3 linked regions of the Homo sapiens genome follow. The protein of the gene in region 3 interacts with the protein of the main gene of each other region in a biochemical or structural test. Each region holds a gene or a part of one and is shown on either strand. Other genes may lie near its edges.

The links.
Region 1: the proteins of STAT1 (region 3) and NMI form a complex in vitro, tested with the Homo sapiens proteins (one study listed by BioGRID).
Region 2: the proteins of STAT1 (region 3) and ATF3 form a complex in vitro, tested with the Homo sapiens proteins (one study listed by BioGRID).

The regions. Positions count from the first base shown.
Region 1 is NC_000002.12:151,276,149-151,279,802, forward strand, and holds part of NMI (N-myc-interactor), read right to left. Parts: intron 2,843-3,654; coding exon 2,680-2,842; intron 1-2,679. UniProt on the Homo sapiens protein: Acts as a signaling pathway regulator involved in innate immune system response.
Region 2 is NC_000001.11:212,615,131-212,618,784, forward strand, and holds part of ATF3 (cyclic AMP-dependent transcription factor ATF-3), read left to right. Parts: coding exon 1-131; intron 132-2,996; coding exon 2,997-3,104; intron 3,105-3,654.
Region 3 is NC_000002.12:190,972,550-190,976,203, reverse strand, and holds part of STAT1 (signal transducer and activator of transcription 1-alpha/beta), read left to right. Parts: intron 1-292; coding exon of another isoform or gene 293-316; coding exon 317-392; coding exon of another isoform or gene 393-396; exon of another isoform or gene 397-666; intron 667-1,271; coding exon 1,272-1,374; intron 1,375-3,654. UniProt on the Homo sapiens protein: Signal transducer and transcription activator that mediates cellular responses to interferons (IFNs), cytokine KITLG/SCF and other cytokines and other growth factors.

The sequences.
Region 1 (3,654 bases), about 40 Mb from region 3:
CTCAAGAGATCCTCCCACCTCAGCTTCCAGAATAGCTATGATTACAGGTGCATGCCACCACGCCTAGCTAATTTTTTTAACTTTTTGTAGAGACGAGCTCTCACTTTGTTACCCAGGCTGCTCTGGAACTCCTGGACTCAAGCAATCCTCCTGCATCGGACTCCCAGACAAAGTTCTGGTATTATCAGGATGAGCCACTGCTCTTGGTCCCAAAGTAGAATATATTAATGTCAAAGTATATCAGCAAAATCACAATGTAGAAGTTCTCAAGTTCTAGATTCTTCTCATAAGATGAATCTTTTCTCTTATCTCTTAAGAGATAAGCCTAACAATCTTCCAGAATTCATATATTACTTCAGCTCAGCCACATACCCTTCCTTCCACTATTAACAATTACCAGAGGATTCCCCTAGTACATTAATGCACAGCCAGAAAGTGTCCCATGTTCAGTAAGCTGGGAAAACTTTCATGGCTAAGTGTCATTTGTACAATTAGTCTTGATTTTACTTAACCTTATCATTTGTTACTCCTTAATATGTTACAAGCACTAGAGCAATATATATTCATTTGCTCTGTCTTCTCAAGGATTACATGTTAAAGACTACATAGGCTGGAACATCAAAGAGTGAGTCTTTTTTTTGGTCATACTTAATGACGAATTCCACTTTTGCAAAAATGCTCTTGAAATCATTCTTTAAAAAGTTGATAGTCCTGCTATATTGATCACAAAGCTGTCAAGTCTAATTTACCTGTGCAAATGGGAGAGGTTTAGTAAAATGCTAAAAATCACTAGCACTCCAAAAGGCAACTCTATGTCAATTAAAAATGTGAGTGGGCATTTATTTTTAATTGTGTGGCATGAGTTTATAATACTGCAGTTGTTGATATTTGGGGCTGCTATTCCAATGTATCATGAAAATAAGTGACATTCACTCTCTGTCTTATAAAACTTCACATGTGTTTATGACAACCAGACCAGATGGCACCACACCACAGCTGGAGGAAGAGAAAAAAGGGCCAGAAGGCAGGGCCTTGGCCATGTGGGAATTCAACTCACTGTACCAAAATATGACTCTATAACTTGGATGATGGTTTTTTGTTTTTTTGTGTTTTTGTGTTTTTTTGCTAATGACAACAGACAATAACAGAAAATATCAATGAGTAATACTCAGATGATCCTCTTTCCCTCCCACTCTTCCACAAACCCCCAACATCTGGTGATCTGATACAGCTGAGAGGGACCGCTTGTGTCTCAATTGTTGTGACTCTGACAATCAAGAGCCAACTCCTACTTAATTGTGTTTCAAACCTACTGCTGTCCCAGGAGATTGGGAGCTCAGAGCCACGTCAAGCGTAGAAGCAATGATGTAGGTGCTTTTAGAGAATTCCATTTCCAACATTCCCAGGAAATTGCTGTGCAGAAATCCTGCCTCCCAAATCCTCATTTATATCTATCTTTTAGTTATATCCCGATTACCAGTCGCCAGTATGAGTCCTGGACTCCTCTTCTACCTGTAGCAGTAGCTCCAGGGTGAAGGAAAACACACTGGCGATGCATGTCTTCTACGCACAGATACTGTCCTGCTGGAATGCCTTTCAACATTTATTTTCAGGCTACAGTGGTGCACCAGTTTTGAGGAAACATGGGTTATAGACTGTCAGAATATGAGCACTGGAAGGGCTGGGAACACCATCTGGTCCCTCACCACATAACTTAAATAAAAGAACAAAGGCCTGGGCTGGTGGCCTACCGAGAGAAATATTGGCCCAGTGGAAGTACATGGACTCTCAGGGTTTGGCTCTAAGCTCTGCAACTAACCGTATAGACTTTAAGCAAGTTAATTATCTTCTTTAAGCTTCTGTATCCTTATCTGAAAAATTTCTAACATGTAGCAAAAACTAACATCCATTAAGTTTGTATTAAGTGTCCAACATTGTGCTAAGTATTTTATCAACATTTCTCATTTAATACTCAAAGCAGCCTCATGAAGTAGGTACTACCATGAAGCACCTGTATAAAACCCTGAGGTTTATAAAGAACCTATCCCAAATCATGCTTCTAGGAAGGGACAAGGCTGGCACTCAAAGCCAGATCCTCCCCACTCAGGAACCCCCAGCTCTGAACAGGGGCCCTCACCATGGCAGACTTAGCAAACATTAGGTTTCATTCCAAATCTCTAGCTCCCAGGCTCTTCTCATTCGTTGGCTATGTTCCCTTAGGTAAATCACTTAAACATCCTCAGAATCTGTTTTCTTGGCTCTGGCATGTCTATATTTAAAGTACACAATAATAACTATCCTATCCTCCTATATTTATGGAATTGTGTGAGTATAAAATGTGATAATGTCTCTGAGAACTGTACAGCTCTACTACCTTGAAATATTACTATCATTATTTGGAGGTAGCATGTGGAGTAGAAAGAGGCTGGTATTGGACATCATCATAGCACCTGGATTAAGTCCCACAGTCATGGCTTTCTGAATACAAGATCATATTCAAGGCACTTGTCTCAGAGTCAGTTTTCTCATCTGTAAAATGGGAATAATCATACCTGCCTCAGAACGTCACTATGAGGATAAGAAATAATATAAGTGAAGTAATATTAGCGAAGTAATAGCTAAATGTCTATGAAAGTGCTTTCCAAATAACATGGTCATATTTTTTAACATTAGTCATACCTTCTTCTTTTTCAAAGGTGATAAGTGCTTGTCCTTTTTGTATCTCATAAGGAACTTTCGAGCTCACTTGAAACGAACAGGAGATATTTGACAACTGGCTGTCATTCTCAGGAGTTTCAACTGATAAGAATTTCATCTTTGTTTCAGGAATATCCTCTTTAATCTAATCCAAATGAAAATGTTTGATTAAAATCAAGACGAGAAATAACTTAAGTCCTTCCAATGATAATGTAATTTGGTCATCCAATAATTCATTCCCCACTAATTTTAGAACCTTGTAGAATATTGAGTATGGTCTTATTTAACATTTTTAGTAATTGCTTTTTCCCATGTAAGTACTCAGTAATCAAATGCTGATCTTTTAATATCATTTCACAGATGAAATTAAAAATATATAATCCTCTCACTTTTTTCTAATCAATGTTTAAACTGTCAATATTGTATGGTGTTCAGTTCTAAAGCCTACATCATTCATGTGAATAAGGACTTTTTAAACAAGTGCCAATAATAGACTATCTCAAAAGGAAATCATTAGATAGTATGTTTAATTTTGCTGCAAAGTATGAAATATAGTGTTGGGTATAATATGGTATTTCAAATCCAGATAATTTCATCCAAAAAGAAAGACTCTAGAATTAGATAATTTTATTTATTTATTTATTTATTTTGAGACAGAGTCTCACTCTGTTGCCAGGCTGGAGTACAGTGGTGTGATCTCGGCTCACTGCAACCTCCACCTCCCGGGTTCAAACAATTCTCCTGCCTCAGTCTCCCGCGTAGCTGGAACTACAGGCATGCGCTACCACACCGAGCTAATTTCTGTATTTTGTATTTTTAGCAAAGACAGGGTTTCACCACGTTGGCCAGGATGGTCTCTTGACCTCATGATCTGCCTGCCTTGGTCTCCCAAAGCGCTGGGATTACAGGCGTGAGCCACCACACCTGGCCCAGAATTAGATGATGTTAAATTTATCA
Region 2 (3,654 bases), on a different chromosome or scaffold from region 3:
TGACGCCCTTTGTCAAGGAAGAGCTGAGGTTTGCCATCCAGAACAAGCACCTCTGCCACCGGATGTCCTCTGCGCTGGAATCAGTCACTGTCAGCGACAGACCCCTCGGGGTGTCCATCACAAAAGCCGAGGTGGGTTCTATCACAGGTATTCATTCTTTCGGCACATGTTTCGCTCGCAGCCACTGTGTGTTGGGCATGTTCTAGGCAGGGGGCTGTTGTTGAGAGTGAAACAAACAAAACCACTGCCCTCAGGGAGCTTACCTTCTCCTGGGAGGAGACAGAAGTACATAACATACGTAAGTACACGTTAAGAGATGAGTGCAAAGGAGAAAAAAGCAGGGAGCGGGGCAGAGAGAACGGGTAGGGATGGGGTTGCTGGGTTTAAAAACTTTTCAGGCCAGGCATGGTGGCCCACGCTTATAATCCCAGCACTTTGAGAGGCCAAGATGGGATTATCGCTTGAGTCCAGGAGTTTGAGACCAGCCTGGGCAACACAATGAAACCCAATCTCTATGACAGTATTAGCTGGGCAAGGTGGTACATGGCCTATAGTCTCATCTACTTGCGAGGCTGAGGTGGGAGGACCGCTTGAGCCCAGGAGGTTGAGGCTGCAATGAGCCGTGATCACCTCACTGCACTCCAGCCTGGGTGATGGAGCAAGACTCATTTTGCTTTTAGAGACAGTGTTGCTCCATCACCCAGGCTGGGGTGCAGTGGGGTGATCACGGCTCATTGTAGCCTCAGTCTCCTGGGCTCAAGCGATCCTCCTGCTTCAGCCTCCCAAAACACTGGGATCACAGGGATGAGCCATTGCACCCAGCCGGGGTTGCTGTTTTAAATTAGGAAGTCAGGTAAGGATTCACTGATAGTGACTTTTGAGCAGAGGTCAAAAGGAAAGGAAGAAGGAAAGAGGAGAGGGAAGAAGCCACGTGGGTATCTGGTAAAAGAAATTAAGGGCACTGAGGTGGAAGTATTGGTGCCTGGTGGGCTGTGCAGTGGGGCAGAGTATAGGGGTGGGAGATAAATAGGGGCTGGTCATATTGGGTCTTACAGATTATTATTGTATAGATGCAGCCCTGGGCTCAAAGTGAGGTGGGAAACCACAGAAGGCTTTTGAGCAGAGAAGCAACAAGATTCAACACACACACACACACACAGATACACACACACACTTTTTTTTTTGAGACAGAGTCTTGTTCTGTCACCCAGACTGGAGTGCAGTGGCATGATCTTGGCTCACTGCAACCTCTGCCTCCCAGGTTCAAGGGATTCTCATGCCTCAGTCTTCCAAATAGCTGGGATTACAGGTGCCCGCCACACGTCTGGCTAATTTTTGAATTTTTTTAGTAGAGACGGGGTTTCTCCATGTTGGCCAGGCTGGTCTCGAACTCCTGACCTCAGGTAATCCGCCCGCCTCGGCCTCCCAAAGTGCTGGGATTACAGGTGTGAGCCACCACGCCCAGCCTTGATTTATATTTTTAAATGATCACCCTGGCTGTCATGTTGAGAATGGGCAGTAGGGGTAAGACAGAAGCTGAGTGCACAGAAAGGAGGCCGTGGCAGGAATCCACGTGAGTCAGGGGGCCTGCAGCAGGAGGGAGCAGTGCAGGTGCTGAGAAGTGGTTGGCTTTGGATCTGACTTGAAGGTAAAGCTGATTTGCTGATAGATTGGATGTGGGGTGTAAGAGAAAGGGAAGACTCAAGGGTGACTGAGTTTTCTGGCCAGCATAGCTGTAAGAATGGAGCGTCCATTTGCTGCTGAGATTTGGGATTATAGGGGTTAGGGTGGTGGCAAGAGCAGGAGGTCTGTCCTATTCTGCAGACCCCTGTGGAGATGTCAAGCAGGCAGTTGGATATGTGAGTCTGGAGTTCAGAGGACAGTCTGGGCTAGAGATAATAGAGTTGGAAATTATCGGCATATAGATGGCACTTAAAGCCATGAGTCAGGATGAGGCCACCTTCTGTGTCCAGTTGTTCTGAAGAAGCTTGGAGCGTGGTGGTCCCTGTTTTTATCACTACTAGGACCCAAGCACCCAGACAGTAGAGCAAGGACCAGGCAGCCTGCCCCACCCTTCCCTGTAGCAATGTTCACAGCCTTGGGACCAGGTGTTGCTCCAGGTTCACTTCTGTCTGACACACTTGCACTGTTCCACGCTTGGCAACCTTGGGTAAGACTCCTGGAATAATAAACATGGTGAGAAGTCTGGGAGGTGGCTTCTGGCGATGCCATAGTGGCTTAAGGATGTCAGAGCTGAGGTTCCACCATTTTATTGGCCTTTTCCTCATGGTGGCAAGTGGAAGTGTTTCAGGCTTACTCAACTGGCATGATTGCAGCCTTTGGGCAAGGAGTAGTGGGACTGACCTAAAAGACTGTCCTAGTTCACCACTTGCAGGTGGCACCCCAGCATGGGCCGATTAATGCCGCTTTGGTTGGGAATGGGCTTAGGTGCCTTTTCTACAGGAGCATCATGGGCTTCTCCCAAATTTGGGAAGCTGGTGCTCTGATGCTCCAGGTGAAGTCAGAGGTGAATGGGGTTGCCCTTGGGTCTTGAATTGAAGAAGAGGCCGGGAGTGGGTGGCTAGGTAATGATCCTGAGATCATTCCTGGTTCTCAAAGAAAGGAGATGTTTACCAGACAGAATCTGTTTCGGCTTTAAATGATTATAGTTAATACCAATAGTTATCAATTTGCATATTATCCTCATCTCAAAATCCAAATGCATTTTTAAAATTGGCTAACTTTTAATTTACTAATATATTGCCGGTATAATTTTAACTTTGATTTTTGTTGTTCACTCACGTGTGTGTGTGTGCGTGTGTGTGTGTGTGTGTGTAGGGGTTTTCACACAAAAGTCTAGAGCTTTAGTATTTCGGGGTCTTTTAGCGCTAGCATTGCCCTTGTCTGCCAGCTTTTGCTGGCAGTAAAAGGCAGTGTATTTGAGGTAGGTGGCATTTCTTACTGCCCTTTAAATGTGTTTCTTTTGGATTTTACAGGTAGCCCCTGAAGAAGATGAAAGGAAAAAGAGGCGACGAGAAAGAAATAAGATTGCAGCTGCAAAGTGCCGAAACAAGAAGAAGGAGAAGACGGAGTGCCTGCAGAAAGTGAGTGCCTTCTAGCCTTACCCTTCCTCTCGCTCACGCCTGTCTTCACCAGCTTCATGTGGCTATCAGAAGAAGAGTTAGAAAACCCCCTACTTGGTTATAGTTTCCCAAGAAGGGCCTTGTAGCTGGTAGCAGAAATGCCAGTTGCAGAATGAGGAGGTGGCAAAGCAGTTAACACAATGGATGTGACGGTGGATGTATAAAAACAGGTGTGTGAATTCGTCTGATGCCTGACTCCCAGCAGCCTCGGCCGGTTCATACATGTCCATCAGCTTCCAGGCTGCAGGACATGCCAGCCCAGTTAAAGAGGCTTCACTTGACTGTTTTCCTGAGAAAAGGAAGCTGCCAGCTCTCATTTGGCTCACTATGAAAAGCCTTTAATTAATCTCTTCAAACAAGTTATTTCCTTAATCCACAAGCAGTGGTTACACTTGCTTTGCATTCTTGTCTGGTTCCTAACTCTAGAGCCCTTCTCCCTGGCTTAGCCAGTAAGCTGAGCCCCTGGCTGCGTTCAGCCGGCCCGCCTGAGAGACACTAGGGGAAATAGCTT
Region 3 (3,654 bases):
TAAACTGGATAGAACTTTGCATATTTTGGGCTCAGACTTCTTGTAAGATTTCAAGTTGTGTAAAGAGAAAGCTCCTAGCTAGTGTCCTGCTGAACACTAGCTTATTTCCAGACTGAATTCAGATCCTTCTTCTCGTTGTTTCTGCATTCCCACTAGAATTTTAGGTGACTCAGGCAGGGAGGTTATAGCTCCTTAAAGTTTTAGGAGGCTAAGCTGTCTAGAAACACAGTAGAACTTTAATCCCCCCGAAAAGTTGATGTTGTATTCTGATGGAATTTCGGTTGATGGAAAGCGTACACAATGTGTTTATTTCTAGCACCAGAGCCAATGGAACTTGATGGCCCTAAAGGAACTGGATATATCAAGACTGAGTTGATTTCTGTGTCTGAAGTGTAAGTGAACACAGAAGAGTGACATGTTTACAAACCTCAAGCCAGCCTTGCTCCTGGCTGGGGCCTGTTGAAGATGCTTGTATTTTACTTTTCCATTGTAATTGCTATCGCCATCACAGCTGAACTTGTTGAGATCCCCGTGTTACTGCCTATCAGCATTTTACTACTTTAAAAAAAAAAAAAAAGCCAAAAACCAAATTTGTATTTAAGGTATATAAATTTTCCCAAAACTGATACCCTTTGAAAAAGTATAAATAAAATGAGCAAAAGTTGATCAGAGTGGGAAAGTAGTTCTTTTCAATCTAGAAAAGGCCAAAGTAATGATTGAGATACACTGTCTCCACTTGCTTTGATTTTGTTGTTTCATTTTATAAAAGGTAGAAAAAATTTTGGAAATGTCATTGTCAGTTATTTGGCCTGCAGCACTGTCTTGGGGTGAATGGATGTAGCCTTCATGTAAAAACACTGTGTGGAGCAGCTTTATCTGCATTCAAACCTCAAGGTAGGGATGAGGGACTCCCCAGACATTTCTCTGGTGCTTTTCTGTCCAGGGTAAGCCACGAGGCATTGTCATCTCAGGGTAGTGCACCGCACATGCTCACACCTAGGCTTACCCAGGCAGAAGCGGCACAGATTCCAGTCTGGCTATTGCTTATCACATCCCTGGAGTGTGAAACATTTCCCAAGGGGCTGGGCTGGGGACATGAGCCTCCCATGAGCTGTACTTTTGCAAATGTATTTTACAAGTGTATGCACTTACCCAAAATAAAAATATAACGTGATAATTCAATTACAGACAAAAGATAAAGTGTGTAAGTATGCACTAGTGCTTTCATCACTCAGATGTTGACATTGCTCTTTTCTTTTTCCCCATTTTAGTCACCCTTCTAGACTTCAGACCACAGACAACCTGCTCCCCATGTCTCCTGAGGAGTTTGACGAGGTGTCTCGGATAGTGGGCTCTGTAGAATTCGACAGTATGGTGAGTACCACGGCTGGCCTGTGTGTAGCTCTCAATAAGTGTGTGTGCTCAGAGGCAGGGAGCGCACCATGGCAGATCCCGGGCCTGTCTGCGGGAGGGAGCCCTGGCGGAGCCAAGGAGAGTGCAGTGCTCAGATGAGCCATGACAAGTTGGAGCTGCTGGATTTAAACCACCTACATCATCAGTGGGATTTTTATTCCTCGCATTCAGCACCTTCCAAAAAACAAGTGACATTTCTAATATTCAGGTTTCCTCCTCTCCCCTTTAAAGTTGTCCATGTAGAAATTTCATATATTAAGGAACTAAGATTTCTTTGATAAGCAAATGTTTTTCTTCGGAATGCGATTTCATCACTGTGTCTAGGGGAGGGAGTGTTATTTTTAGAAAGGGAGGGACTAACGCTTGGTAGTTACAGTAATTAGAGAGAATTATACTTTAGCAGCAATGAGATTACTTCATCTGCCTTATATTTGAGAGCTAATTTGTACAAGTAGCTCCTGGGGCTGTGAAGGGCTTGCCAAGAGTAAAAGGTTCAAGGAGTGAAATAGTTAATGAGATTCGTGATAGAAATGGGAATATGATTGTCCACAAAAGGGAACATCTTCCTTTTGGAGGGTGCTTTTTTAGTATATCAACTAGTATTGTTTGCCTTTCAGCCTAAAATCCTTCCTCTTAAAGATTGTGCTTGCTTGGCTGGATTTTTGCTGATGCTGTTTAATTTTAAGCTCTTTTCCACATGGAGCTATTCCAGCTCATTTTTAAAAATTTATTTAATGCTTCCAAAAAATATCCTGAGTTATTACTGGCCTTTCTTCCTTACTGTATACCCGGTGCCTGGCAAAAAGTAGGTGCTCAACAAAGAGAGGAAGGCAGGGAGGGGAAAGGTGAGCGAGAATGAGAGGGCGTCACTCTTCAGACATTTGGGGAATGCGATGATAAGGCCTCAGTAAGATCTGCCTGGATTCAGGTTTCTCATGTGTAATTTTTTGACTTTTTTCCTCACCTTAAGCACGGGCTACAATCATTAGAGATTGTACCTTCCTACACTTTCCTGATTGTTGTTGACGAAATAGGCCATTTAGAAAAACAGTTAGCTATTGTGGCAGCGAAATAGTTTCATTCCTATTGGCAAGTGTAAAATGAACCTTTTCTGCATGTAAGAAGGATCCTGCTAGAGTTTCGCTCCCAACACTGCTATAGGCCTGGCACAAAAATGGAATAAATATAAAGCCCTATTCAGAAAATATGTTACATCACAGGAACTGTAAAATGGGGGGATTTTTTATACCTCCTTTGTTGTTCCTGAGCAAATTACATCATCATCACCACCACCATTAATAGGTGACATTAAGCACCTACAGTATACCATGTACTTCACAGGTAGTAACTCATTCAGTCCTCACAGCCACCTTCTGAGTTAGGTGTTATTGTTATTCCTACTTTGACAGATGTGGGAACAGAGCCCCTCCTCCCCACACAGCCCCTTTTATGTAACTTGACTAAGATCAAGCAGTTAGTAAATGGTAGAAAGAATATTTGAATCTACCTAGTGAGTCTCTAGTGCATGCTTTTGTCCGGTATCCTGGAAAGCCTCCCACAAAAAGCTAATCTTTGCCCCATTCAAAACATGCACCCTGAAGAAGCTGTTTGTACAGGATTGGGTTTATTCTGTTATTAAGACAAAGGCATCATGGCCTTTGGGTGAGAGGCCCGTATGTGTTTGGGATTTGGCAATCAGCATTCCATCTCTGTCATCACCATTATTGAGAAAATAGATGGATTGGTTCCCTCTCTGCAGTCCTGTGGAGCAGTTGGACTGCTCTCTCTGCTCTCAGGATGATACTGTGAGAACAATTTAAATATGCTAAGCACATGTCAGGAAACAGTTTTGTGGTCTTTGGACACTCGCTGTAGCCATTCCGTTCCATTTCAGGTGATTTTATTCATTTCATTTGTAGAATAAAATAAATCCATTTCACACACACACACACACACACACACACACACACACACCCTCTATACACCACTAAAGCCTCCCATTAAACCCATAGAAGACTTAAAGAGCTAAAAGAGGCTATAATATAAAAAAAAAAAAAGAAAAGAAAAGAAAAAGAGTTCATAATATAGGCACGGCACTGGTTAGACAACGGTTGAATCAGTCTCTAAATTGGGTTGACTTCACAATGGTTTGCTGTCCTGCCCCTTGGCCATGACTTCCATCCAGCATCTACTCTTAGAATCAGAGTGTATACTCTGAAACAGAAGCAGCTCTCCCCAAGC